2 separate regions of the Homo sapiens genome follow, and region 1 is linked to region 2. Evidence: fine-mapped QTL for protein levels in blood plasma. A gene starts in region 2. The other region holds a variant in brackets. All regions are shown on one strand. Distances are between the middles of the regions.

The links. PIP is the chance, under the fine-mapping model, that this variant and not a neighbour inherited with it causes the effect. The UK Biobank Pharma Proteomics Project read protein levels with antibody pairs (Olink). The fine-mapping took linkage between variants from a reference panel, not from the people measured, so its PIPs are less certain.
Region 1: its variant is fine-mapped to the plasma level of the FOXJ3 protein (UK Biobank, PIP above 0.99). The variant lies in the coding sequence of FOXJ3. If it changes the protein, the assay may bind it differently, which can mimic a change of level.

The regions. Positions count from the first base shown.
Region 1 is chr1:42,190,150-42,193,061 of GRCh38, reverse strand. It overlaps FOXJ3 (forkhead box J3), which reads left to right. Exons shown (of 13, transcript NM_014947.5): 9 at 1,343-1,759. Among named protein-coding and RNA genes, the nearest start is that of GUCA2A, 27 kb to the right of the region's middle. The variant A/C (reference allele first, on the strand shown) is at 1,537.
Region 2 is chr1:42,334,086-42,336,997 of GRCh38, reverse strand. FOXJ3 (forkhead box J3) reads left to right here and starts at 1,763. Exons shown (of 13, transcript NM_014947.5): 1 at 1,763-1,939. RefSeq lists a silencer at 1,727-2,246 and an enhancer at 1,831-2,788.

The sequences.
Region 1 (2,912 bases), 140 kb after region 2:
GATACAGATCAGACCTTGGTTCCCTTGTAAAATGCTAGGATTTTATTGAAAATTGATAAATTACTGCTTTCTTTGATCTTACAGTAATAACCCTATAGATTCCTTATATGTGACTATTTTCTAGGACCAAGGCAAGAACTTTTATTAACTCTTCTGCCTGTAAAACTTGGTAGCTTTTAAGATTATCTTGCAATGAACACAAATACAGTTTTACTACTAATGACAAATAGAATAATTTTATCTTTTTTAAAAAGCTTGATTCTTTTATTGATTGATATTATCTTGTGTTTTTTTTTTTCATTCAATAAAATTATTTTTATGTTTGGTTCAGCATAACATTGCATGGGCTACCCTTTAGGATTTGAAAATAGTCTAGTTACATAGAACCAAATGTTGCAGTAAGGTTATCTAACTACTTGGAGAACAAACATAAATTATCCTTAACATTAAACATTTTTGGCTTAATCATCATCATGGCAGCTAACATTTACAGAGCTCATCCTGCAGCTTACACCTTCACTATGTAGAAAGTAAAAAGTTCCTCTTCATAGTTTCCCTTCTTGTTAAAGAGTAAATCATAAGTGTTAGAAATAATAGTTTCTTTTAAAAACTAACTTCCTTTAAGCCTCCTTACTTTATGCTAATAACTTTTTGTTGGGCCCTATCCTGTGTAGCTGTTAAACATGCTCACAGGCACGTAGTACATTCTATGTCCTTGTACCTTAACTGAGATATTTGTGCTGGACGTGCTCACAGGCATGTTCCAGCTTGCAGCCTATGCCCCTTCCCTATTTGGCATAAACAACTTCCTCTTTTCCTTTGTCTTTCCATTACTTTTACCTATTTGGAAAAGTTTTAAACTATTAGCCAGTCGAGATTTAGTTTAGATTGTGCGGTCTTCTATCAAAGCCTTGGTCTTTATGCCTACAGAGAGCCATCCTGAGTGTGACCCCCACACCTTTCCCACTTTTCCCCGAACATTTCCTTATCTTTCAAGACTCAGTTCAGGCACTGTCTTTAAAAGAAAGGCTTCTCTATATTTTCAGCCTTCTCCTAGCTGAACAGACAAGGAGCAGTTTTCATAATCCTCTGTATACTTTAGCTTTAGTACTTAAATTGTTGGTCATAATCTTGTCTTTCTCTTCCACTTGAGGGTGGGGCATTATATTTCTTCTCAATAACCACAGAGCCTAGTGTGCAGTGGATGTTGGATTAACACTTATTAAATTGAACCAGTGTTGCTTCCTGGCATCATATGCTTTTGTTATGTTAATAATTTTACAAATGTTTGTCATAAAATACAACTGAAATCTGACCATAAATGATCTTGCTTTGTTTTTAGGTTTGATGAACATCCCTTCTGAATCTTCCCAGCAGTCCCACACTTCATGTACCTATCAGCACTCTCCCAGCAGTACAGTGAGCACTCACCCACACAGCAACCAAAGCAGCCTGTCCAACAGTCATGGCAGTGGCCTCAACACCACAGGCAGTAATTCGGTTGCACAGGTCTCACTGTCTCACCCCCAGATGCAC[A/C]CACAGCCATCTCCACATCCTCCCCATCGACCGCATGGTTTACCGCAGCATCCGCAGCGTTCCCCACACCCAGCACCACACCCACAGCAACACAGCCAGCTCCAGTCCCCTCACCCCCAGCATCCCTCTCCACATCAACACATACAGCACCATCCGAACCATCAGCATCAGACGTTAACACATCAGGCACCCCCACCCCCACAACAGGTATCCTGTAATTCTGGTAAGTTTTTGTCTCCTGGTTTGTGTTTGGCTAACTGTGAATTAGGATCTGTCCTTTGTTATTTAGAGCTCATGTAGTATTTACTACCAAAACCTCTTTACATCTGTTTCCTTGCTATAATCCTATAGTTGTAACTCATTTAATTCATAGACTGACCTGGCGACTTTCTTGATTAAAATTTATTGTGGCAACATAGGCAAACCCAGCAACCCTTGCAGGTTTTTATTTTAACTCTTGTTTATAATTTAGATACATTATCTTACATTATCCTGCCAAATCAAGTATAGATGACCACATTTTATATATAGGAAAAGTGCAACTAAAAGAATTTTAAGTAATTTGCTTAAGATCATACTGTGGTAAGTGGTAGAACTGGGGTTTATATTCTGACATGTCTGACTTCAAAGCTTATAACACCAGTTATTCTAAAAGAACTAAAATTAGCAGACATTTGCTAAGTGGGTAGGGTTTGCTCACCCAGTCGCTGCAGAGTTTGCTTTATTTTTATTTGCCAGGTCACTATTTATTAAAGGAGCCTCCTCTTCCTCTTACCCACAACAACAACAACAAATTAGTCATGGCAAATGTCCTGGTTCCTGCTCATAATTTCATTTCAGTTAACCTTTTTCCTACCCTGACCTTTTGACTACCTGAGTTGTGTTTACCTCAAGAGATCTGGATTCTAGTACTGCTTTGGCTGTTGTATTACCTAAGTGACTTAAATCATATAATTCCTTTGAACCTTGGTTTCCTTATCCATGAAGTTCTTCTTGAACTAAAGGATCTGAGTCTGGTAGACTTGCATGTTCGTGGCTCATTTGGATATTAGTTTAATCCCCTCCCACCTAACAAATTTCTTCCTAAGTTACGACTTGCTTCATGGCAGGGTCATGTTGTCTCTAGTTGATTGTTTATTTTAAAAATCCATTATTGGCAGAATTTTGTAATCAAGTAGCCAGTAGTTGATATAGCCAAGAGTTGCCTTGATGTAGCAAAAGCAAACCAACCAGCCCTTTTTATTGGTCTTTATCTTCATCCATCCGGGGGAGGTCCTAGAAACAGTGGCTTGACAGCAGTCACTGAAATGAAGAATTTTCTTCCACTATTCAGCACTGCTGTCTCATTGAAGGTAACTCTTGCTGCATGGCCTCTG
Region 2 (2,912 bases):
CCTCAGCTCTTTCAGGTCTCCGATTTAAAGTCATTTTATAAATGAGGCCCATGCTGACGGCTCTATTTAAAATTGCAGGCCAGGCGCGGTGGCTCAGGCCTGTAATGCCAGCACTTTGGGAGGCCGAAGAGCGCGGATCACTTTTGAGTTCGGGAGTTTGAGACCAGCCTGGCCAACATGGTGAAACCCCATCTCTACTAAAAATACAAAAATTAGCCGGGTGTGGTAGCGCGCGCCTGTAATCCCAGCTACTTAGGAGGCTGAGGCAGGAGAATCACTTGAACCCGGGAGTTGCAGTGAGCTGAGATCGCGCCACTGCACTCCAGCCTGGGCGGGAGAGCAGGATTCCCTCTTAAAAAAAAATTGCAAACCCCCTTCCTCCAGTTTTCCTCATACCCCTTACCCTGGTGTATTTTTTTTTCCCCATATGCCTTCTAACATATTACATAATTCTCTTACATTTATCATCTTTCTCCTTATATTAGAATGAAAGCTCCAACAGGGAAGGGTATTTGTTTTCTCTCTCTCTTCTGTTTACTGATACATCCCAAGCACTAAAATAGTGTCTGGCAACCTTAGTAGTGATTGGCAAATATTTGTTGAGTGAATGAGTACATGAATCTTCAGAATCTTGCTAGTCTTATAAAGAAAAGGAATATGTGAATACTTTGAATCTCCAGTGCCTAGAAATGCTTGACCAAACGGCAGGTGTTCAATGTTTACTGAAGGAATTGTGTGCTCAGATCTGCTGGAGGTCTTTATCTGAACCCTTTGAGACTATGTCAAAAAAGTACCCAGGGCCAATTCACTCATGCCTCTCCTTTTCCTCTCATCCAATCAGCCTAGTATTCATCTAACAAATATCTAAGTCTCCAAATATTGAGCCACCCATTGTGAGTTCAAAAGCGTGTTTGGCGCTGCAGGGGAATATGTGACTAACGCGAATGAAGCAACAGCAAATACTACACTGGAATGTAATTAAGTGTGAAATTATAGGGCAGATTATCAGTGCTAATAGTTTAGAGAAAGAATCAGTGAAGACTGACGTAGAAGTAAATTCCAAAGTTCACTCGTCGACCAAACTACCCTTCTAAACGCTCCACCTACTGATAGTAGTACCATAACCTGGGTAGCTACCTTGAGAATTAGAAGGGCCTTTAGAGGTCCAACTCCTTTAAGAAAGAAAGAAAGACCAGGCACGGGAAAGGCCTCCGCAGACATGAGTCTAGCACCTGGGACTCATGAAGTTCTGAAAAGAGGGGTGTCCTGAAGGTCCAAGGCGCCTTTGTTGGGGGTCCCGGAATCCGCGGTGTGCCAGGTCGGAAAAGGCGTCCGCTTTCCTGGAGAGGAGGCTAAGGTGCCGGGCGCTTCGGTGAGGTGGCGGATGTTGGGGGGCGGGGGAGGGCAGAAGGCACCATTCCTTCGGGGCATGGGGCCCCAGGTATCCGTGGGCAGGGTCCAAAGCCACCGATCCCTACTGTCCTCAACTGCGGGGTTGCCTCCGCCGCCTTTGCTCCCAGACGCCACTCCGAGGCACAAGGACCCCAAGTCGCTCGGAACTGCCGGCCGCTAGATGACACCGGCTGCGCCGATGCAGAGCCTCGGGAGTCTCAGGGCACTACTTGTCCCAGCGGAGGGATCCTGCGTGCGTCGAAGCGACCGTGACCGCGCAGGGACTTGACGCCGCTGACGCCGGGCCGGCGGCGCAGCGACGCCGCAGGAGGCGGTGGCGGCGAGGGCGGGCGGGGGATGCGGGTCGGGAAGTAGTTCCGGGTGCGCGGCCCCGGATGTTGGCTGCTCTTGCTGCCGCCGCCGCTCTCGGGGCTGCTCGGGGCCTCGACCGCTCGCAGTAGGCACCGTTGGGACCTTTCCCGGGGGGGCGGAGACGCACGGAGCGGCCGGGGGCTCGGCCGGGCCGTCCCGGCCTGCGCAGCCTGAGGTAAGTGCCCCCCGCCAGGGCGGCCGGGCCTGGGCGGCGGGCGAGGAGGCGGGGCTGTGGCATCTCCCGGGACGGAGGCAGGGGCTGTCCTCCGCGAGACGCCCTCTCTCTTCCAGCCGCAGCCGCGTTGCGGGGTGGGCGGCGGGTGGGGCAGGGGGCCTGGGCCCCGGCTGGGGCCTGGCGGACGCCGAGGGCTGGGTCCTTCCCTCCCCCGCGGCGCTTCTCAGCTGCTGCTGCCCCTCAGCTGGGAAGCAGCGGCTTCGCGTCTCCCGCCCCTCCCCCAGGCGGGGCACCGGGGAACCAGACGTGGATCCCGGGGGCGCCTAGTCCGAGGGCAGCGACCGTCTCCTTCCCTCCATGACCTGTCCCTTGGCCTGGGCTAGCCCCCGACCCCGGCACTCTGCGGCTTCTTCCCTTTAAGCTTGGGGGCGCTTTTCTGCCGGCAGGGCGGGCTGTACCTCACGCCTTGGAGTGGCCCTTTGGGGAGAGGAGGCCCATGCGAGGGTGCTTGCGTTCCCGCCCATCCTGTGTCTGTGTCCTTTGCTGGGATTAGGGCAAAGGCAGCCGTTCCATGCGGACGTGTTGCTGTCCTGTGTGTGTTGCATCCTGCCCACGTGGTAGAGTGTCTCCCGCCCCCCCTCCCAGCTCCATTTTTGCAGCTGGTGAGGAGGGAGGTTAACGGGATGGTTTTTCCTCTGTGATTTCCTCCGGGTGGCGTGGAAGGTGTTAGGGTCAGTTTGCTTTGCCGAGGCCGGCTGTTGGTTAGATGAAGAATCGAGAGTTGTACTCTGAAATTGAGGCCAGTAGGGGACATAACAGGGCTTAGTTTCATTAACATCTTTTTTCCTCTTCCATTAGCTGCTCTTATTCTTTTCTCTGTTGCTTAATTATAGAGAATAAGCGCTTGCTACCGATGCATTCAGGTGTATAGTTTTCATTTCTCTGTTTTACTTTTTGTGTGTCTGGTTAGCAA